Regions from separate parts of the Homo sapiens genome. Here region 2 is linked to region 1. Evidence: fine-mapped expression QTL. A gene starts in region 1. The other region holds a variant in brackets. All regions are shown on one strand. Distances are between the middles of the regions.

Region 1 (12,150 bases):
TTAATAAAAATTGGGGTGTGGTAACCCATCATTCTATGTTTTTCTTAACATAGCTGGCACAGGGTTTAACACATAATTGCCAAAAAAATATTGCTTAAAGTTCTTTAAAAAGAACTATGTTTTATAAATGATTCTATATTATTCTGAGTTGTCAGCATATATTTACTGTTTTATGTTTTTTCACTTCCCTTTCAATACTTATAACTTTCTACCCAGAAATTTTGTGGTTAAATTTCTGTTTTCTTTCCCAAACTTTCTCTTGCTTATGGAATTAGGAAGCTTATTTTTCTGATATGCAGTTCACCTATCTTGTGACTTTTCCCCAGAATGCCAACTGGGTTGAGGGTTCAGTCTGTGGTCACGGAGCACGGTGAATTTAACCAGCAGCAGAATCACGGTTATAAGCATGCACTTAGGAGCCAGACAGTTCTGGCTCTGCCACTTTACTGCCCAACTCACTTTGGATAAGCTACTTAATTCTTTCTAAATTTGTTTCTCCTAGCATAGGATGAAGACAATAATGGTTATATCTTCTGTTTTGTGTAGGGGTTAAGTAATACACTAATGCAACTATAACACTCAGCATATTACCTGGTCCATGGTAAGATACAATAAGTGTTAACTAGTATTATTACTGAGAAAGGATCTAGACAAAATTTCTAAAGTGCTTTAAGAAACATGCTATTTTACCCTATCATCATGAAGACTCAACACCACAGTCTTTTCTTTAACAAGGTGAGCACACATGAGAGAGAAATCTCCATCACCTACATCAGGTCCTTCTGGCATCCTGTTGAGTTTACATGAGTCACATTTCACTACCATTGTGTTAATGACTAAGAGAAAACTTGCCTCTGCTTCTGTAACAAATGACAAGTTGTAATTACCTAAATCAGTAACCACTTTTGTGGTCAGTGTTTTCTTGTTGCTGTCTCACATTTACAGTGCTATTTTGTATACTTCAGTGATCAGAATACTCAGAAATACTAATTGATTGTCACACTTTAAAAAAAAACATTAAAATTATCTATTATTTGGTCTGGAAGGGAGTCTGAAAGTTGTACCAAAGTTTGGCTTCTAGCACAATGCCCTCCCACTCTGATCATCATAAATGCTCAACAAATATCTGTTGACTCTTGTCTAAACTCTTCATTTTGAAATGGAGAAAATAAAGTTTCAGAGAAGTCACCTGACAAATTTCTTCGGTCAAGACTCTGGGCTTCTGGCTGAACAGTCAGCAACACACCCCACCACGTGTCTTCATCAAATGTGCTCTGAGTATTAAGGGATTCTGGGATTAGTTACTGAATGTCTTATCTATTTTTCCTCAAGAAAAGCTTTTTATCCTCCTATTTAAATTTACAAAACCCTCTCCATACAGTCCTCCCAACCTCCACCAAGCGCTTCCTGTCTCTCTCTCTCAGTCTATTTTCCCCCGTAGCACCATCACCACCTGGCATACTACAATTTATTTGTTTATTTAATTGTGGTTTGTCTCTAGAAGTTTTCCACCTGCAAGTTAGTATTTATTTAGTGAAGTGTTCAGTATATCTCCCTTTCTCTGATTAAAATAAATACAAAGTAAGTACATGCTATGGCATTCAGTAACCTGTAGAAGATGGTCCTAACCAACATCTCTAACTTTCAGTTTACCATTGGAGACAAAGTTTGCAGCCCAACAATTCAAAATTAAAACCCTGACTCTTCCACCTTGTCATTGAGAACTTGGACAAATGACGTGAACTTTTTGAATCTGTTTTTTTTTATATATAAAATTAGTGATTAGGCTAGATTATCTGAATACTTATAATCTCTTAGATCAGAAACGGGTACATAGAAAGAAGCCTAACAAATGTCCTCTATTATTATACTTCCCGTGGACATTTTCCCACCACCTGGAATTTGGTCATACTGATCCCTCCACCTGAGATCTCCCTCCACTCCACCCCATTTCAGCCTTTTGAAATCCTACTCTTCTTATGAGACTATCTCTCCCATTCTACCTCAAGAGTATTTTGTGTGTCTCTTAAGTCATTTAACGTTACTTTACTTTTTCTCATTATAATTTCTACGGTTGTTTTAATTTCAGTACTACATTGGAGATTTCCCAAGTCAGAAGCACTGTTCATCTTTGAAAAGTGTCATATCAACTAACAAATTGTCTGGACAATGTAATTGACTTTAAAAGCAGGCAAGAGTGGTGCTTATAAAAGTTTATATTGGATCAAACTTCCTAAATGCCTCAATAATGTGTTTACATGAGGAAAATAGTAAACTAAGTAATGAGAATGATCAGTTATATATGATGGGAGTTAAAGTAATATAGAAACAAAATTGGTAAGAGAAATCATTTATTTTTATTTGTATTTTATTTTATTTTATTTTTTTGAGATGGAGTCTTACTCTCTCGCCCAGGCTGGAGTGCAGTGGTACGATCTTGGCTCACTGCAATCTCTGCCTCCTGGGTTCAAGCAATTTCATGCCACCACACCTGGCTATTTTTTTTTTTTTTTTTTTCAGTAGAGAAGGGATTTCATCATTCTGGCCAGGCTGGTCTCGAACTCTTGACCTCATGTGAGCCTCCTGCCTCAGCCTCCCAAAGTGCTGGGATTACAGGTGAGAGCCACCACTCCCAGCCAGAGAAATCATTTTGATATCCTGAATTATAAGTAGTTGCTAAGATACTCAGAGCATCAGACACAGATCATCCTTTGACTTGGCATTCTCTTCATCTAGAAAAGGAATCTTAGGGCTGGGTGCAGTGGCTCACGCCTGTAATCCCAGCACTTTGGGAGTCCTAGGTGGGAGGATTACCTGAGATCAGGAGTTTGAGACCAGCCTGGCCAACATGGTGAAACCCCGTCTCTACTAAAAAAGAAAAGAAAAAAAGAAAAACAAAATTAGCTGGCTGTGGTGACACACGCCTGTAATCCCAGCTACTCGGGAGGCTGAGGCAGCAGAATCACTTGAACCCGGAAGGCGGAGGTTGCAGTGAGCAGAGATCGCGCCATTGCACTCCAGCCTGGGCAACAAGAGTTAAACTCCTTCCCCTGCCCAAGAAAAAAAAAAAAAAAAGAAAAGGAATCTTAGGTAGGTAGTTACAGGAAACAAATGAGCTCCTGAAAATTGCCTCATGATTGTTTTAACAGATTAAAACAAATATCAAATGAACCAAGAGCGTCTGAAGTGTACTTTCTTTAAAGAAACCATAATTTCAATGGTCAAAACAGTTACTATGCACTTTTTAAATTTATTTATTTATTTATTTATATTTATTTATTTTTTTGTAGAGACCGGGGTCTCGGTATGTTGCCTAGGCTGGTCTCAAACTCCTGAACCTTTGGTCTCAAGTGATCCTCCTGTATCGGCCTCTCAAAGTCACTCTATAAATTTTAGAAGAGCAGACTTTGAAAGGTAACCTAGTTTACTTACACGAAATAAAAAAGCAGAAATAATGTGTTTCTTGCAAAAATCACAAGATAAAATAAGACCAGAATCCTGATCTTTTTTGAGTTCAAGTTAGTATTAGCTCAATTCCAGTTTAACTGCCTTCAATGTTTTATTTTTCTTTATATAGATTTTTAACAACATAACAAATCACAAAAATTGTCAAAACCTTGTTTTTCCTATTTTTGCATACCAAAGTAAAAATTTCATGGTTGTTACTCTTTTATAATTTAAAAGTGAAAATGGTTACTTTTATTTTTATTAACTAATTTCTATAAAACATTTGTGAAACGACAGTGGGCTAATTAATCAAAGTTCATTGCTGGTTGCACCTGTCATTTTTACTAAAGAATGGTTTCTACTCATACTACTTGTAAAATAAATTTTACCGGGGTACTATGTAAAATATAAGTAAAAACCTAACAAAACATTTGGACACAGCTAAACAAATTTTAAAATTTATTTATTCAAAATTTTTGAATATTGCTGATAAACTATTTCTGCAAGTATACATGAGAAATTGCTTAACATGGTTCTTCTCTGGGAGGTAAATTCGGTGTCTAGGCATAGAAGACTACACATCCTTTTGTTTAAAAAAAAATATTCTCATCATTTTACTATTTAAAACCAAACAGGGCCAGGCGCGGTGGCTCACGCCTGTAATCCCAGCACTTTGGGAGGCCGAGGCGGGCGGATCACGAGGTCAGCAGATCGAGACCATCCTGGCTAACACAGCGAAACCCCGTCCCTACTAAAAATACAAAAAAATTAGCTGGGCGTGGTGGTGGGCGCCTGTAGTCCCAGCTACTTGGGAGGCTGAGGCAGGAGAATAACGTGAACCCAGGAGGCGTAGCTTGCAGAGAGCCGAGATCGCGCCACTGCACTCCAGCCTGGGTGACAGAGCAAGACCCCGTCTCAAACAAACAAACAAACAAACAGGAAACCAGCAACAATAAAACCTTTTTCAGAATCCTGTGTGATCATGCAATTTCAACATTTTGCAATTCACTTCAGTTTAATCAATTTACTTAAGATATTAGAATATGAATTATTTAATAACAATAAAAAAGACTAACAAGTATTTTGTTTCTAATACGTCTCATAATACGATGGGAAAAGTTAAAGAACCAATATGGGCTTATAAGTATTTATCCCTCTAAGCAACTAGATGATTTCATGGGAAAGAAACTTCAAAGCCAAAATAATTATATTTTTATGACTTAGAACAAACACACATTAACAAAAAATTAGTCAGGCGTGGTAGCGGGCGCCTGTAGTCCCAGCTCCTCCGGAGGCTCAGGCGGGAGAATGGCGTGAACCCGGGAGGCGGAGCTTGCAGTGAGCGGAGATCGTGCCAGTCACTCCAGCCTGGGCGACAGAGCGAGACTCCGTCTCAAAAAAAAAAAAACAAAAAAACAAAAAAACAAAAAAAAGAACAAAAACACAATAATTTATTTAACCAATTTATTTAACTTAGGTGCTGAACCTATTTAATTTAGGCCACATTCACGTTGATTACTTTCACTAATTTAAGGTATTTTTGACCAACCTTTTAAATTTAAGTAATAGAAAATTTTAAAAATGAATTAGTGCACAAGACAGATATGGACATTTGTCTAGTCTCCCTGCTTATTTACAAGTAAACTTCAGTAGATGCTCTAACTACTCTGAGCTTGGAAAACCCTGGTATTTCAAATATTGAAAGTGAAGCTCTTAAACATTTTCTTTGTGAAAATGATTTATCATATATAGACATACCAACACAATTAGAGACACAACATAGCTTAGCTGATTCACTACTTCCCTGCCTTACTATACATTTTACAAATTAGAAAACCAAAACTAAGAAAAATTAAATGACTTCTTCAGTGATGGCCTGTGGCAGAGCTGCAACTACACGCCAGGAGTATTCATTAAGTGGTTCATTGTTTTTTTCATTCTAATTTATTCATTGAGGTTGAGCGGAGCGTGGTAAGAAACTAGGAACGAACAAAAACTCCTGCTTCCTAAACAGGGAATGGTCATGGGTGTCTTGGGTCAGCTACTCTGAAATATTAAGTTAATATTTCACTTGCCTTTGACTCTGTGAGGCAGGAGGTTATCTCTGGAAAGAAAGAGAAATATCCAACTGCTAGGGAAGGTTTCTTACATTCATGTTTGATTTTTCTTCTACTCTTTTGACCACCATCAACAAGACTTTAGTTACAGTTAAAGGGAAAGTTTTATTGCATGTAAACTTTTTTCACATCGGACACTTTTCCTGGCTTTCCAGAGCAACAGCTAGATAAATAGTGCTTGCCAGAAAGTGGAGAAACTAATACTAAATGAATCCACTGCCTACATCCAGGAAGGTTCAGGAGCCAGGAATTCAAAATCCTTGGTGTCAAGTGTCACCCAAAACTTAGGGTTGGGGAGTGGAGAAAGGCTTTCGGTTAAGAACTCTAAGATTCCTGCTTCTGTCTTCTCTTATATCATCCTTTGATGCACCCCTCTACATAACATTCCCCCGGAAAAATAAAAAAAATACAAACTCTGCTGCTGTTGAGGATGCAGATGATTATTTAATAATAGAAAATGTTCTTGCAACTTGTAAACGATATTCACACCCTGTTGCCCCCTCCTCGCCCAAAATGTATAAACCCATATTAGGCCTCGAACAAGCCGGATGGACACAAATGAGCAGAACACTGGTGGGTATTTCTGGGATTAGGGCTAAGCTTCATTTTCTTTTCAGCCTTTTCTTAAGCGTCCGCATTCTCCACTATGCATTTATTACGTTGGTGCAAAACTAATTGCACCAACCTATATATGTAATTAGAGAAAAGTAATTACTTTTGCAACAACCTATGTATGTAATTAGGGAAAAGCTATATCTAGCATATTTTTAAAACTCTTTGAGAGGTGAAGGGTAGTTATTTCCTGCTGGGTAGTGTACTCCTTTTCCTAGCTTCACAAACAAAACCCGGATGTGACTTGGAAACGGAAAAAAAAAAAGGAGCGGGGGTGCGCGGAGAACACAAAGTAAAACTTCTGCTGTTCCCAGTCCTGCAGCCCCAGCCCAGCCGTCCCCCGCGGGCGTGGCAGGTCCTGAGTCAGGGCCTGTCCGTGGCCAGCATCCCTGCTGGGCGATTGAGCAGCGGGAAGCTGCTTGGACCCAGTCTCAAACTTAACCCTCATCTAGCACCCGGGCAGGCCTCCTGGGTTGCAGGGACTTGAGAAAAGGCAGAGTTCTCAGGTCCTAGGAAGCTGGGGCACGCTGGCGTGACAAGCGTCCCGGAGAAAGCCAAGCCCTCGGGGAGCTGGGGACCGCAGCAGGGCTGCAGTCACATCCTGCGCGGGTGGGCGGCGGGCCAGGCCTTCAGTTGTTTCGGGACGCGCCGAGCTTCGCCGCTCTTCCAGCGGCTCCGCTGCCAGAGCTAGCCCGAGCCCGGTTCTGGGGCGAAAATGCCTGCCCTTCACATCGAAGATTTGCCAGAGAAGGAAAAACTGAAAATGGAAGTTGAGCAGCTTCGCAAAGAAGTGAAGTTGCAGAGACAACAAGTAAGTTGGCTGTTCCGGAATATTTCCTTCTCTGAAATGAAGCAGGGTCCGATTTTTCCTGCTTAGTAACAGTAAAGCAAATAGTTTAGCTTATTTTTCCCCCTTTTTGTAGCTTCTCTTCTCACCACCCTTTGGCAGTGCCTGGGGACTGCCAGCTGATGTGGGGAAATCCTAGGAGGTAGAGGAGGGAGCAAGGATCTGATAAGTAATTTAAGGCCAAATGTCCTAACTTTTAAGATGCCTAGGAAGGGGAAAATAGACAAGAAATCTTGCTTTCCATTAGACAGCTGTTTTTCAAAACTCACTTGTAGGAAAAAAGCGGATAGCTACTTGGTTCTTTGATCTTTTACACTACTAGAAAGGATGATATTTGAAAGAAATTTTCTAAAACCGTATTTTAAAGTCTTACAAGTACATTATTTAATTTTGAATTTCACCAGTGGCCTTCAGTGATATGCAAAGAACAGTCCACCGAAATTTGGGAACAAAATATTAGAATTTCTATATTTATTTGTAAATCTCATCCCTTTATAATTTTCACTTTATGTTTTATTAGTATGCGATTAATACAGTAGTATCTGTACTTATTTATAAATAATTATACATACACTGTGGTGCATATGAAAAATTTTTTTAGTGATCACAATTTTAAAGTTTTAGAGACTATTGATAGAGATTACCATTTCATTGAGAACATATGACCCAGTATTCAATATTCTCCACTGAAACGTCTCGGGAGTTTTATAAGTTTTACTTCAATTTCTTACTGGTCATCAAGACCTTCCTTCAGACACTAATCCCTCTTCCTGTTTTAACTCAATCAGGCATCCTGTAGACTAGGAAAGGTCTTTGAATAGATATTGTTTAAAGATAATTAACCTTTCCTCTTCAGCAAGAAAATTTTGAACTGATCTTATTTATTATGGTTTAGCACTAGAAAAAATTAAGAAAAACAATGGAAATGAAGCGTTATAATATGCTCACTTGCCTTCCTGTTCTAGTTATAATAAATCTGTTAAGGGCAAGAGTCTTCACTGTTGAGTGATGATTAGAAGATGCAGGCATTTTTGTGTTTTACTTTTTACATATTTCTTTTCTCAAATTTAACCTTTCACATCCAAATCCCGGCTCTTCCTAGCTTTTATAATGAGCTGTCCCTTCTATCATGTTAAGGGTTTGTAGCTTTAAAAACACCAACGCGTTTAAAGGGGAAAAAAAGGAAGTTACACTACCCAATCAATAAGCACGCTTCTTGAAACCTTAAGGGACCCATTTTATGGATGGCGAAGTTCCCAGTACAGCAAGTGCTGGCCACTTAGATATGTTCACACAATAAACCTTAGGAGTTACATATTAAACAGAGTTTCATATGCTGAAGTACAGCATTGTCTATGCAAGGTTCTAATATCTTAATATTTGGTATCACTGTGTAGAACTTAGGAAAAAAGACAAGCGTCTTCTACTTACTCAGAGTTTTAAGTTAAGTGATGTGGATGCAACCGACTATGTAAAAATTGACTGTATCATTCATTAGCAGTTTCTCCCTGCTAGCCAGCCTGACCCTTTAGGACACGGCCTGTGGCATCAACTTCCCACCTCCAGAAACCTCAAGTGTATGCCAGAGGGAGAAAAAACTTTGGATATATGTAACCTTAGGAAATACAGAAAGAGGCATCTAAATCTCAACAATAATATTAAGACATTTGATTATACACTTGGAATTATACATTATTATTGCTAGGCAAGCATTGGAATGTTTAGAGATCATTCATCTCCCTCACTTTAAGGATTAAAAAAAACTTGAGTCCCACAAAGGCTAACTAGCTCCACATTTAAGACCACAGAGATAGATAGTGATAGGGCAGGTACTAAAACATTCTTCTTCTCATTCCCAGTCCATTATTCAGTCAATAAATAGTTAACATCTGGGCTACGTGTTCAGTCCTTAACTTAGGCCCAGACAAAACTTGCAAGTTGCATTCTGGCTGTAGTTAAATGTTTATCAAACATGTCCTCTTGATTATGGAAGGAAATGTATCAGAGGAGCAATTACTCACATTTGGAGGTTACAGACCTCTTCTGAAACCTAATGAAAAAACCTTGTAAGAAAAGATTCAATGTAGGGAGCATGTATCTTGCTGAGAAATTAACCTGGGACGACAGACCCTAAATTATGACACGTGCATTATCAACTCTAAAAATTCACTTAAAATGCATGCACTCTGAATGTCAACAAACGAGAGCAAATGTTACCTGAAAGAATTGTATTTGAAAGATTTTATTTTGCCAGATTTTAAGTCACACAACTACATCACCTAGTTTTCAATTTGAGGTCAGAGGCTTCCACACTGATTTGCAGAGGATAATCATTTGGGGTGTGGAAGTAAAATGTTAACATTGCTATTTCTGTTTAGTTTTAAACCTCACCCATTTATAATTTCCAGTTTATGTTTTATAATTTTGCATGATGTATTAACAAAGCAGTGTCTGTACTTATTTGTAGTTAAAAATTATATTCATTTTGGGATACACATGCAAACATGTTTTAGTAGTAACCGTTAAAACAGTTTGAGGTTACTAATTTAGATTACTAATTCAATGGGAACATTTGCCCAGTTTTCATAGGTCTCCATTTAAATTTGCTGGTGCGGCCTGGCGCGGTGTCCCACGCCTGTAATCCCAGCACTTTGGGAGGCCAAGGCGGGCGGATCACGAGGTCAGGAGATCAAGACCATGCTGGCTAACGTGGTGAAACCCCGTCTCTACTAAAAATACAAAAAATTAGCCAGGCGTGGTGGTGGGCGCCTGTAGTCCCAGCTACTTGGGAGGCTGAGGCAGGAGAATGGCTAGAATCCGGGAGGCGGAGCTTGCAGTGAGCCGAGATCCTGCCACTGCACTCCAGCCTGGGCAATAGAGCAAGACTCCATCTCAAAAAGAAATAAATAATTAAATTAAATTAAATTTGCTGGTACTTCTGTAATTTTTACTTTAAATTTCTTACTAGCAATACAGGCCTTCATTAAAACCCTAATTTCTTTTCTTTTGTTTTTATTCTTTTTTTAATTCATTCTTGCAACCTGTCTTTTAAGGATAGATAGACTTTTTGAAGAAACTCTTCTTTTAAGAATAGACTTTTTGAAGACACTATTCAATTTTTTCTCCATCTCAGAAAAAAATTTATTCTCAGATAAGCCTAATAAGTCTCAGATAAGTCTTTTATTATGATCATTGCCCTCATGCAGCAGGAAGAAATTCTGAGGAGCAACACAGAGTGCGATATTTGGACAATTCCAATCTTTCCAGAATCAGGCTTTTTCCAAAGCTTCTATCATTTCGTGAAATTTCAGAACATGGCACACACCCATAAGTGAGAATCGTGGCATTACACACCCCAAAACATTTGGGGATTATCTACTACTGCACCTGCTCACTAGCATGGAAAATTAAAATAAGAGTATATTTCAGTTCCTAAAATATTGTAGACATGGCATAATTGTATTTTAGCAGAGGAAGGAAATCATATGAGACACAATGGAAAAAAACTGCTGGAGATGATTTATTTAATGCAGTGACTTTCAAACATTTTTTAATTTGACCAACGACCAACAGTAAGAAATATATTTTACATAGGTTGCATCATAGGTATAGTAATAGAATAAAAATATTAGAGTGCAGAGCCCAGATTTTATATATGTATTATATATATAATATATACACACACACATGCACATATATATGTAAATGTAAAAAAATGTTTAAAAACTTATTGTATTCAATTATACTTATTTCATTAAGGCGTAGGGACAAAGTTTAAACAACCCTAACCTAATGTATTCTCTTTTTTTTCTATACTTAAGGTGTCTAAATGTTCTGAAGAAATAAAGAACTATATTGAAGAACGTTCTGGAGAGGATCCTCTAGTAAAGGGAATTCCAGAAGACAAGAACCCCTTTAAAGAAAAAGGCAGCTGTGTTATTTCATAAATAACTTGGGAGAAACTGCATCCTAAGTGGAAGAACTAGTTTGTTTTAGTTTTCCCAGATAAAACCAACATGCTTTTTAAGGAAGGAAGAATGAAATTAAAAGGAGACTTTCTTAAGCACCATATAGATAGGGTTATGTATAAAAGCATATGTGCTACTCATCTTTGCTCACTATGCAGTCTTTTTTAAGAGAGCAGAGAGTATCAGATGTACAATTATGGAAATAAGAACATTACTTGAGCATGACACTTCTTTCAGTATATTGCTTGATGCTTCAAATAAAGTTTTGTCTTGGGAAGATGAGTGTTGGTGATTTAAGAAGACACTTTTCATGCATTAACTTTTATATTTCTCCCCGTAATCTTTTGGGTGTGGAGTATGATTGGGTTTGGAATATGATTCAGAAGGTTAGGTGGTTCGACAGATCACATCTCCAAACCCTGCGTCAATGGTTTAGAGTGCTGAGTTCTGACCTCTGGAACGTGTTTGATCTAACCTTAACTATTAAGAAACTGAGCAGGTAGAATTCCTATAACATTGACAGAAGTCAGATTATCTGAGTCAGGAACAAGGCCAAGCCACATCTATGTTAGTACTTCCCTAGTTTATCATCATTTAGATCTTCTTAATAGTGTTCCTGTAGTAGTAGCCTTGAAGAAAATACTGAGTTGGGGTTCAGGAAGAGTGCCCTGCCTCTCTGCCGTGTAGTGGCCAGGCCAGCCCTGGCTTTGAGAGCCAGTACTTATTCCTGCACAGAGCTACATCTCCCATGTGCTCTCCAGGTCTTGGGCATGGCACTACTCCAGTTCTGTGGCATTGGTGCAGACACTTGGACCTCTGCACTCATGCTTGCCAGCATTTTCCAGCAGGCCTGGGCCAAACATGCCTTTTTTTCTTCTCCTCCAAAGGAACCAGTGAATCTTTGCCCACTTTAAAGATTAGTTGGTCTTTTTCTTACTGATTTGTAGGAATTCTTCATATATTCTGGCCATTTATTCGTGTTTGGTGATATGTGTTGCGAATACCTTCTCCCAGTCTGTGGCTTACCTTTTCACAGTGACCTTCCCTTCAGTGGTTTTATCCTGCAGGGCAACACGTCAGAGTATAACTCCTGCTCAAGTTCATAACAAAGGTACCTGAAGCCCAAACCTCACAAAAAGGGACCTTTCTTTCTCACCTT
Region 2 (12,150 bases), 26 kb after region 1:
TAAGTCCATGTCTGCTATCTTGGTGCTCATAGTCTAATGGGAAAGAAAATTGACTAGGTAATCGCACAGGAGTCTTTAGTGGTTCCCAGTAACAGTATGATGATATTTTCTTATTTTCTTATTAAATTATTGTTTTCTGTATTATTAGTAGCAAGTATATATTTCCCACTTGAACCTTATCACCCCATTTTTCAAAACAATTTCAGCTTTTATTTTAGGTTCGGGGGTACAGTTGCAGGTCTGTTATCTGAGTATATCACATGATGCTGAGGTTTGGGGAATGAATGATCCCATCATCCAGGTACTGAGCATGGTACCCAATAGTAGTTTTTCAGCCCTTGCCCTCTCCCTCCCTCCCTCTCCCCTCCAATAGTCACCAACATCTATTATTATTACTATCTTTATGTCCATGAGTACCCATTGTTTAGATCCCACTTATAAGGTTTGGTTTTCTGTTCTTACATTGATTAGCTTAGGATACTGGCCTCCAGCTGCATTCATGTTGCTGCAAACGACATGAATTTGTTCTTTTTTATGGCTGCATAGTATTCCATGCTGTACAGGTACCACAATTTCTTTATCCAGTCCACTGTTGATGGGCACCTCGGTTGATTCCATATATTTGCTATTGTAAATAGTACTATGATGAACATGTGAGTGTATGTGTATTTTTGGTAGGACAATTTTTAAAATATATATATACCCAGTAATAAGACTGGGTGAAATGGTAGTTCTGTTTTAAGTTCTTTGAGCAATTTCCAAGCTATTTTCCACAGTGGCTGAGCTAATTTACATTCCCTCCAACAGTGTATAAGCTTTCCTTTTTCTCCACAGCCTGCTCAGCATCTGTTGTTTTTTGACTTTTTAGCAGCAGCCATTATGACTGGTGTGAGATGGTGTTAATATCTCATTGTGGTTTTAACTTGCATTTCTCTGGTGATTAGTAATGTTGAACATATTTTTGTATGTTTTTTGACCACTAGTATGTCTTCTTTTGAGAAGTGACTGTTTGTGTCTTTTGCTTACGTTTTAATGGTCACTCCAAATATTTACAAGTTGAAAATGGGACCGGTTGAGCTATCAAATACCAGGAGGGTAGAGAAATGGAACACCTGATCAGTTTACATTTTCTGTTGCTTCTGAACAGTCCAGTCAAAGTTTCTTCATTTTTCAGTAATGTGCTTGTTGAACTGAATCCCATTTATTTCAAGCTTAGGCCCAAATTTGATGGCTCCCTTGTTTGAGTCACACATATGTTCACTAACTATGCACCAAAGCACAAGCCTGAGATAACTGCTGTGCCAGCCACCCAACAATGGATCACAAGTTGCCAGCACATAATGGGTTCTCCAGCACATAATCGATTCTGCCCTATGAGTGCATTTCTCTTTGAGACCTTTGGCATCTTTTCTTGCCTGCCAACTTTGTGTTACATTGGTCCAATCCAACAGATATTTTAGCATCAAATATTAGGGAGCAGGAGTTCATTCCCTCCCATAAGGCTCTGAACTTCTTATGAAAATTGGTTTACTTCCTCCTCTATGATCAGCTTTGGGCAGCAACATGTGATGTGAGCAGGCTTCCTTAGGTCATATCAGTGGATCCTACTGGCAGGCACTCTGAAAGAGAGTGCAGGAGTGAGCCTTTCCGGACTAAAGTAGGCCTATAGGTAATTTACTTTTGTTTCCTCAGGAAGAAAAGAGGTGGCCACTTCGAGTACAAGTCACTCAGTTACATATAAGATAGTGTGGTAAGAAAGTTATAACGATTGACATAAAATTCCATAGCCTCTTGCCAAGAAGGTGACCATCCTTGTCTTATCATGGCGTTGAGTTTCATCTGCACTTGAGGTGTTGGTTAGATGAGAAGAAAACCTGACTAACCTTTGCTGCACACTGGGGTTCTTTTATTTCTCACTTGAATTCTTTACTGTATCATTTACAAACCTTCTCTCTTTTCTTCAAGAGTCCAGCACTATTTCAGCCTGCCATCTTGCTGGCAAATGTCCTACACGTCTACTCAGTGGAAAAGTTTGAAAATATCAGATGTACATTCCCCTAATTTTTCTCCTACCTACATGAGAATGTGTTAATTGTTCATCTTTCTTTCCTGGTCCTTCTCTTTTTCGATGGAGAAACAAGTGTCTCGTTGTTTTCTGTTCTTGTTTTTGGTTTTGTTTCTTTTACTAAGCCTGTGTTTTTGAACTCCGGTGTCTGTGGATCTCCTGGGACCTAAGTTATACCTTCTTGTCTTAGATTTTCTACCTCTTGCCCTCAATTGGTTATGTTTCTTTTTTCTGCCTAAAAACATGATTTGTACAATCTACCTAAATCAATAATAACAACAATTGTAACAACAAAGCAAAAGAAGAAATTTTTCTTTGTTCCTGCTTCCTGTGAGAGCAATACTCTCTATGGTTTTATTCAATTTCAGATCTTTTTATCATCAGGTATTTCATTGATTATATAATTTGCCTGCCTCCATTCCTTACTAATTAATCATACTTAACAATAATATTATTCTTAAATACATGCATTTCTTTCTCATCTTTTAAACGAGTCTCCATTTTTTCAGAAGAGAAAAATTAAATTCTATTTCTTTTGAAATATTACAATCTTATTCTCACTACCAACTTTCTCTCTATGACTTTCCAACTGCCAAGTCCAGTGTATTGAAAGTCTCATTCACTTGTGACCTTCTATATAACTGGAATCTGGTTTCTACTCAAAGCCTTTTCCTCCTTTGACATCAAAACCTCGCCTACCATGCTCCTCTGCTTGCCTCTGCCATTTGGAGCTTTTCCAACTTATTTGATAGCAACACTTTTCAGGCTCTTATACACAGACATACCATGATCCCTGTCTTACACACTTCTTTCTTTATCCTTCTGCATGCAGAAACTCACCACCAATCCAAAATACATTTCCCCTTACAGAAACCCTCAATTGCCTTATTTTGCCTTCTAATTTAAGTACAAACTATTTGGCTTCATGGTTCCACAACACACATTTTGGATCTCCTATGCCAGTATTTTCTACTTTTGTTCATCTGTATATACCTATCCAGAAACAGCTGGTTGATAGCTAAGTAAATCTTAAGCTTCTCTGTCTCCCAGTCACTGTGATACTATTTATTCTGTCTGAAAGTCTACTTGTCTCTCCCCTTCTCGCCACCTGTCAAGGTGACTGAGGCTAGAACGCAGACTGTTCAAGGGCATGACAACGACTTGTGGGTTAAATAGAAACTTGCTTAGTAACTAGCCTTTCTTGATATATTATTCTTGAACAAGTTCATTTTGTTTTTTCTCATCTTTCAAAGAAGTCTCCATTTTTAAGGGAAAAACTGTAAATTCTATTCCATTTAAGGAAATGTCCCATGATATTAGAAAGCAAGTTTATTCCTTTTTGGATTAAGAAATTTAAAATGGTTAATGTATATTTTATTTTTCAGTGAGAAAGTTAAAACTGCACTAGAATGACATTCCTCACTTCTTTCTTTTGTTTTCTATTTAAATTGTACATTTTGCTGTGTGCTAAAGCACTGGACTCTGTATTATAGAGAGACTGTGGGTGGTATGCATTTTGTGACCGTGTTAGTTAAAGCATGATCATACTGTTGACTGGTTTGGCTTAGACAGTAGGAAACATCTGGCAGTTTCCTGATATTTATCAAGACAGAACTGTGCTTCCTTTAAAAACAGTTTCACATGAACAATGCACTACATAATAGCAGAGGAATTTTATAACAACAAGTATAAAAACAAGAATGTGACTATTAAATATAGACATTAATTTTATAATGTTAATCAAAAAGTTAACTCTTTTTGATTATAAAGTTATACTCTAGAAATATATCAATGTTTATATTATAAATCCAGAACAGAGTGTTTGTTCTTGCTGAAAAGAATATCAGAAAATTGATCTGAGATAGTAGAGCGAACTTTGATTTATAATTCTTTGACTGTAATGTTCAAATATATTTACCTAGCCTGGCATAGTGGCATGTGTGCTTGCAGTCCCAGCTACTTGGGAGGCTGAAGGAGGTGGATCACTTTGAGCCCAGGAGTTCGAAGCTGTTGTGAGCTATGATTACACACTGCACTCCAGCCTGGGCAACAGAGCAATACCTTGACTCTAAAGCCAGTCCCAAATGAACTTGGAAGGAATAAGAATAGATCGGATAAGTGAGTGGGGTCTGATTTTTTTCTTTTTGAACCCTGTAGGTTTCAAATCCCAAGTTCCAAGGTCTATATCTTTCAGCTAAGGAACCTTAAAGTAGGGTGGCTTTTTATGACTTTTCCACTTTCATATAAATCTGTGATGGATACCTAAATGTGGCCTTGCTTCTGATCTGTATGTCAGAAAATTGGACTAAATAACTTACAGTTATGGTTCCAGAGTTAGCAAATATATCAACCCTTTATGCTTGGCTCAAAGTAGATATTGCTAATCAGTCACTGAGTGCTCTCTTACCGAGCTAGAACAGCCCTCATAATCTTTTCCAATAGCACTGCAGGTTTACTAATCAATTGGAGTTGACATGACATGTTAAACCTATTTGCTTTCCCAGGTTTAGACTTTCCAAAATATAGCAAATACAATCATTTGGGCAAAACTTATCATTAATCGCTTTCCAAAAGAAATGCTGAAAAACTATTTTGGCAGCCCCTCCTCTCTGCCTAATACATGGCTATTTTAGGAGACATATAACTGCATGTGATCTGATTCCTCCCTTATCTTTCTTTTCCAGTAGTGTCTGCAAAGTTTATCTCATCCAGTTTGAATAGACTTCTGAGCACATCGCTCTCAGGTCTTCACAGCTAATCTATTTTCAACCACGATATAACTTCCTATATCCAAGACAAGGTGTCCTTCCTTTTTAAAATAACTTATCTTTCCCAGTTCCTTTAATTCCTTTAGTTTCTTCCGTTTTCCTAAATGTTCATCACTTAGTCACTTCTTTACCTTATTATGTCTCTTCTCTCCAATAATTGCCCCTCCTCACTAAAAATATGCTGTCAGTTTTTCCTTGGCTTTAACCAAGCATGCAAAGCCACAGACTTTTCACCAATTCTACTCCCTACTTAAACTAGCACATTATAACATTTTTCCCCCTTTAACCACAATGTCTGTTAAAACACCAGGCTGTTTCATCAATCTCTTCTTAATTCCTTGCAAGGATTTTTAAACTCTTGGAATTTGCCAAATGCTTTCTTTTCCTTTTAGCCTCTCAGTAGCATTCTTGACCTGCTCCGTTTCTCTGGCTTATCTAGCCCTGCACAAAATGAATTTCTTCTTTGCTTGTTCTTTTTGTGTTTCCTTTGTTAACATTTTATATAATTCCTAAGGCCTTATTCTTGACTTTCTTCTCTTCCCCTTCTCTACGTCCTTCTCTTTGGAAAACTCAACTTTGAAATTTTCAGCTATCATCTCTTTACAGCTTTCAAATTAATGTGAGTACTCCAGGCTTCACTCTTAGA[G/A]GTGAGTTTCACATTTTCAACTCCCCTTCTGAACATAAACAGTGACTTTCTTTTTCCAATTACTTTTAACCTTAAGGAGACTTTTTAACCTGTGTTTTCATCTGTTGCATATCAGGCATGCCAAATTTAGTTGCTGTCCTTCAGTGTGTTTTCTGGGCCCCATTCTTCCTCCCGGTTCCATTGTCTTCTCGATTAAAGCTTTTATCACCCCAAAACAGAAAGCTTAAAATAGTTACATTGCAGCTTCATATTCCTGTCTCTATAGTCTTTTTTCTGAAAGCCACCTTGCAAAAGATCTTTAGGTTTGCCATCTTAAACCACTGTTTTAAAACCATATGTCTCTTGTCGAAAACCATCATGGGATTGCTATTATCTACTGAATGAGAACTGGGCTCCTTATTCTGACAGCCAAATTCTCCATAAGCCAGGCTTAACCTACCTTTAAAGCTTGTGCTCATGTCAAGCACACTACTTGCTGATTCCAAAATTTGCCTTGATTTTTTTTTTATGAGTGTGCACTTTTGTTTTGCCACTTTAGATTTCTGGAATTAATTCTTCTACTTCTATATTCCATCTTTTAAAATTCTACTCAATCTTTAACAGCCAACTCAAACAACTTCAGCATTAGCCTTGAGGTAGAGGTGTGACCAGGTCCATCCAGGTGGGGCACTGACCAAGAAAGAAAAAGAAGGAGGCAGTCGAGGGACATCTCTGAAGGGGCATAAGATTTATGTCCAACAAAGACATGGATGCTAGCTAATACCATGGGATTGCTTAAGGTGAGTTGTAAAAGTGAGCAGAAGAGAGACTTGACATGGCCTGAAGGCAGGCTAATAGTTATCTTGGGAGTAGGAAGAAGAAACATGCAAAAGACACCAGCAAGTTGTGGTCAAATACAGGAGAAAAGCCAGGAAAATGTGATATGATACAAGTCAAAAGAAGAAAGTTTTTCAAGAGGAATGTAGTATTTGATATTTTCCAATGTTCCTAAGAAATCAAAAGAGATGAAAATCAAAAACAAAAACAAGTGGGTGGTGGGGAATAGAATTTAGTGACATGGGCCACTGGGAACATTGATGAGAGCTCTTTTGGTGGAGTGGTAAAGGGTCAAGCCAGATTAGTGTTGGCTAGTGATCAAGAGATGAAGAAGTGGAGACAGCAAAAATGTATAATATTTCTGGAGAGCTTGTTGTGGCTGAAAGAGAATGAGGAACGAATCTTCTTTCTTGGGAGTGGCTGGAGGTAGCTTAAAAGCCATTAAAAATATTCAGGTTTAATGGGAAAGTTAGAAGATAATGCAAAGAGAAAAAACATTTGAGTAAAGTTCCTAAGATAGGGGGAGAGGATAAGCTCAAAAGTCAGGAGATTTAGTGTGAGCAAGGAGCAGGCCACCTCCTGTCTTGCAAAAAGACAAAGAGTAGACATGGGTGAGGAGAAAAGACATGTGTGTTTGGTGGCTTAGAGCATGTGATTTAGAGATTGAAGAAATGTCCAATTGATGGCATCTATTTTCCCTTTGAGATAGTAAGTGACATCAACCTCTGACACCAAGGAAGAAGTGGGAAGTAGTAGGGATGGGAGTTTCAGGAGAATGTAAACGGTTTGAAACAGTCATTGCAGAGTAATGTCATTGCAAAGTAATTTGAAAAAAAAATTATTGGAATGCCAGAAAAGAATGTAAATGAAGAAAGACTCAATATGTGGGTTTATTAAGGACTGGTTTGTTAAGACCAGTGTGATCAAAATATGGGACATAAGTACATTTAGAATGTGGCCAAGAATGTTTTTTGGGGATTTTTTGTTTTTGTTTTTGTTTCTGTTCAGGGATAGAGTCTTACTCTGTTGCTCAGGTTGGAGTACAGTGACAAGATCATGGCACACTGCAGCATTGACCTACCAAGCTCAAGCAATCCTTCTGCCTCAGCTTCTCAAACATCTGGGACTACAGTTGTCCACCACCATGCCCAGCTAATTTTTTTGAGTTTTTGCAAAGATAGGGGTCTCACTGTGTTGCCTAGGCTGATCTTGAACTCCTGGGCTCAAGCAGTCCTCTTGCCTCCCAAAGTTCTGGGATTACAAGCATGAGCCACCACACCTGTCCTCAAGATTGTTATTGGAATGGTGGAATATATATTGTGAAGAGGAAAATGAAGGAAGAAAAGGCCAGTAGGTTTAACAAAAAAAGAAAGAAAGAGAGAAAAAGGAAGAAGGAAGGAAGGAAGGAAGGAAGGAAGGAAGGAAGGGAGGGAGGGAGGGAGGGAGGGAGGAAGGGAGGGAGGGACGGAGGGAGGGAGATAAGGAGGGAGGGAGGGAGGGAAAAAGGGAGAGAGGGAGAAAGGGAGGGGTGTAATTGGATTGGCAGTCCTGATGAGATTCAAGAAGGGTCTCTGATGCCTTACCTGATTACTCCCATCTGGAAGCTGTTTTTTATCTAGCTTCCCCAATCACGGTTGTTTGAACTGCTTATTATTGAGATGTTATCCACCATATACTGCCCTATTTCAATATGGTATGCTAGCTCACTTATGTGGGCTGGATGTGTAGTACAAGTGTCTACACACTTAAACTTACTCATGATAGGTAATCAATAAATATTTGTTGAATGAATGAATAAGAGAAGGGAAGAAGAACAGAAAGGATGAAAGTAAGAACAATATACTTTAGCTTAGTCTTTTGTTTACAGATTGTTGTCAACACATATCTTACTGATTATATTTCCTTTTCTTGCAACTTTTAAGAATGAGTATATGGTATTTTAGTCATTTAGTGATCAAAAGATTGATCAAAAGATTAGATTAGGTTACTCAAACCAACAAATGTTTTATTTGACCATTAAACATAAATTTGTGCTCTCTTTTTATTCACAACATGAGGCAGAAAATTGTGAAAGTTTCTAGTAATTACAATTCAATCCAGAGAGCCAGTCTGGGAGTGAGTCACCCCCTTGTCTGGACAGTAAGTGTCCATTATTTACGTCAATATGCTCTGTGGCTGTGCCTGCAGCTAACCCTGAATGATAGCAAATGTCTGCTTTTCCAATTCTTTTTCAATTTCCTTCTTTAAGAAGAAAACAATTGAATGTAACAGGATAGAACTACACTGAACATCACTATTAAGATAATGGCTTACTGAGTTTGTTGTTCATGACATGAATGCTGTTCCTGTTACACTAATAATTAGCCATCTGCTAAAATGTGAATTTTTCCATTTTGAGCTATGAATCTGTAAAGAATATGAGCACATTGATTTACTTCCTTTGAATTTTTTTATTACAATTGTATTGATATCTTTCAGTCCAGTTTTCCTTCCTTAACTTAAACGTATCCCTTTCCTCTTTAAGGATATTTCATGCAGCGTCAAGATACATACAAAGTAAAAAGCTTAAAATTTTTTTAAAAAACTGTCCATTAGATTGTGAAGTGCTATTTTAGTGACAATACTAAATCGATATTTGTTGTGTTATGGCTGAATTGAGTGAATTTTTCACTTGCCTAGTTAATTTTCTGTATGTGAAAAGAGTAGATCTCTTTTACTGAATACATCAAAGTTTACATGCATGATGCCTAATGGCCTAATTGAGGTAAACAACATTACGCTCCATGAGTAGAACTTCAGTCTCTTTTGTTTCTGGTACTAAGACTAATTCTTTATTTTAGGAATTATTATTATTATTATTTCGGTCATTATCATCATCATCATCACAATAGTCATTATCATATCTGGGACCTCAAGGCCCTTGCCATCACCAGGAGGTGACGATGAGTATCTCTTTTTATAAAGTACTCTTAAAGGCCTCATGATAGATGTGATTTAATATACATCCTTCAAGGGGACAAATCCTCCCCAACTGCATTCCTCTTGTTTATCCATTTTTTGAAGATTTTCAGATTTCTAGAGAATAGTTATTGTGGTGTGGTATGAAAAAGAATGAGGAAAAGATTTGAATTCAGAGTGGTTCAGGTTCAAATTTTGTGTGTATTAGTTGTTTGATTCTGACTAGATTATTTTGGCTTTGTAAATATCAGTTTCCTCATCTGCAGATTAGGGATAATTGCTACCTGACATGATTCATTTATTCAACATCTGTTTCTTGGAAATCTAGGTACTAGGTAGGTCCTGTGAACAAGGTAAATGGTTGATGACTTTGTGAAACCTACAACTTATGGAAGACATCAAGCAAATGATTTTAATTTGAGTGGCAGTATATACAATGTTTAAGAACTGAAAGTCTGGGCCCTATCTACCTGGGTTCAAATCTCAGCTCTGGCCCTTACTGGCTGCAGCAGTTTAAATTGCCTAATCTTATTTTGACTCAGTCTCCTCCTCCTTTTATGGATAAAGGTGGGTTTTCTTTTTTCTTCTGATGAGAGGACTCAAGTTCAGAAAGCTTGAAATAAAGTTAGGGGTAGCTCATAACTCAAGATGGCATTTTAAGGAAAAAATACCTTCATCCTTCAGAAACCTGAACAGAAGTGGAAAAATAACTGCAGTTCTTTAAATAAGCTTTTGAATTTGAAGGTCTGTGTTGGAAACATGACTGGGACACTAAGGTCCAGTTGGAACCACTGAGTCACCACCTAAATGTATGTGTTTTACTGACCTCTGATGCTGCATGGAAAGACCAGGCTTCATTCAGACATATACATGAAGTAGGACAAGATAAAAAGGAATCCTGATGTGAATAACAGATCAGATACATGCAAACACATGATCACACAGTTGGGAACGTGTATTGCTGCTGCAAACATTTTCAGTCTATGAAAATAGAAAAACATTATCCATTCTTTAGAGAGAAGGAAAATAATGAAAATGTTTAAAACTTTTTATGATTCAAAATCTCTCTTTTCCTGTCTTAAAATATTCAGAATGCCATTAAATTAAGAAAAATATTTATTGAATATTTAATTTTGCCAGGATAAAATTTAATTACTTTATATCATGTCATAAAGTTTTACAGCATGTAGTTACTTGTAGCATTTATGACAAGATGAATGAAAAATTTGAGTAATTACTTTTTTTGCAATCTTTTTCGTAGTACTTGTTTTGTGCCGGGAACTGTTCTAAGAGTTCTAAGTATAACATTCCACAATTACGTAGGAAGTTAATTGTTGGTTTTTTAATAGATTTCTTTGATCAGATTTAGAATTTTCTCTTCCAGTCCTACTTTGATGGGAGATTTTCAACATTAACAGGTATTGAATTTTGTCAAATGCCTTGTCTGCACCTATTAAATGGATCATATAATATTTCTATTTATTTCATTAATACTACTAATTGCAGGGTTGATTGATTTTGTGTTGTCAATCTAACTTGGTGTTTCTGGAATAAACTTCACTTAGTCATGATGTATTATCTTTTTCTCTGTTATTAGATTAAATTATCTAGTATTTTGTTTAAAATTTTCATATATAATTTTACGTAGAATATTGGTCTATGGCTTCCTTTCCTTACAATATTTTCATCAGGTTAGTAGTAGGGTTATGCAGGCCTCCTGAAATTAGTTCAAAACCATTTCCTTTTCCTTAATTTTTGCAAAATGTTTTTGTATCATTTCTATTATTTCATTCTGCAAACTTAATAATATTCATGAGGGGAGGTGTTTGGGCCTAGTGTTATCTTTGTTTATGATGATGAATTCAATTTATTTAATATAGTGGTTTTAGTAGTTCTTAAGTTTTAGTATGCATCACCACCATTGGGAGGGTTGTCAAAACACAAATTGTTGAGCCTTCCTCAAAGCTTCTGTAGGTCTAGAGTGGGGCCAAAAAATTTGCATTTCAAATAAGTTCCCAAAAGATGCTGTTGCTGTTGGTCTTCCAACCATGCTTTGAGAACCACTGCTTGCATAGATAGAGGACCATTGAGCTGATGATGCTCTTGGTAAATAATAACAATAAATATTTATTATTTTTAATTTTAATATGTGTTCCATGCTGATACGATTTGTGTCCCCATCCAAATCTCATCTTGTAGCTCCCATAATTGCCATGTGTTGTGGGAGGGACCCAGTGGGAGATAATTGAATCACGGGGCCAGGTCTTTGCTGTTCTCTTGATAGCGAATGAGTCTTGCGAGATCTGATAGTTTTAAAAAGGTGAGTTTCCTTGCACAAACTCTCTCCTCTCTTGCCACCACCAAGTAAGAAGTGCTTTTCACCTTTCGCCATGATTGTGAGGCCTCCCCAGCCACGTCGAACTGTGAGTCCAATAACCTCTTTCTTCTGTAAATTGCCCAGTCTCGGTTGGGTATGTCTTTATCAGCAGTGTGAAAACGGACTAATACACATACCTAGTTTTCTTTTGATTGTTTTTTCTTAATGGTATATTTTCTCACTTTTTCATGTATTTTGTATTTTTTTTATTGACAGCTTGTCATTGTGTAAGAAAGATATGCTTAGTGTAAGGTCTGGAGTGCTACAGAATTTTTGTCACTTCTCTTCCTCTACCCTCAGACTTCAACAGGCCTTATTTTCCTGCACCTTACATTGAGTCCTTTTAAGAATGACATCTTTCCCTCTAGGGTAGACAGATCATCACTGCCTCGTACTTGGTGTAAGGGCCATATTTCAAGAAGTTCTTCTCAATTCTGCTTTTTCCTCATTCTTAGGCAAACCTTCCTGCATCCCAGTAAAATTCATCTCAATATTACTGATTGCTTGACACCTTATAATT

What was found.
Region 2: its variant is fine-mapped to the expression of GNG11 in whole blood (TOPMed, PIP 0.94).

What each region holds. Positions count from the first base shown.
Region 1 is chr7:93,915,247-93,927,396 of GRCh38, forward strand. It overlaps GNG11 (G protein subunit gamma 11), which reads left to right and starts at 6,489. Exons shown (of 2, transcript NM_004126.4): 1 at 6,489-6,987; 2 at 10,845-12,150. The coding sequence starts at 6,892. The coding sequence ends at 10,970. LOC105375402 (a long non-coding RNA gene) reads right to left here. Exons shown (of 3, transcript XR_927751.3): 2 at 1,190-1,274. RefSeq lists enhancers at 1-292, 6,091-6,726.
Region 2 is chr7:93,941,221-93,953,370 of GRCh38, forward strand. No RefSeq gene overlaps it. Among named protein-coding and RNA genes, the nearest start is that of BET1-AS1, 21 kb to the right of the region's middle. The variant G/A (reference allele first, on the strand shown) is at 5,480.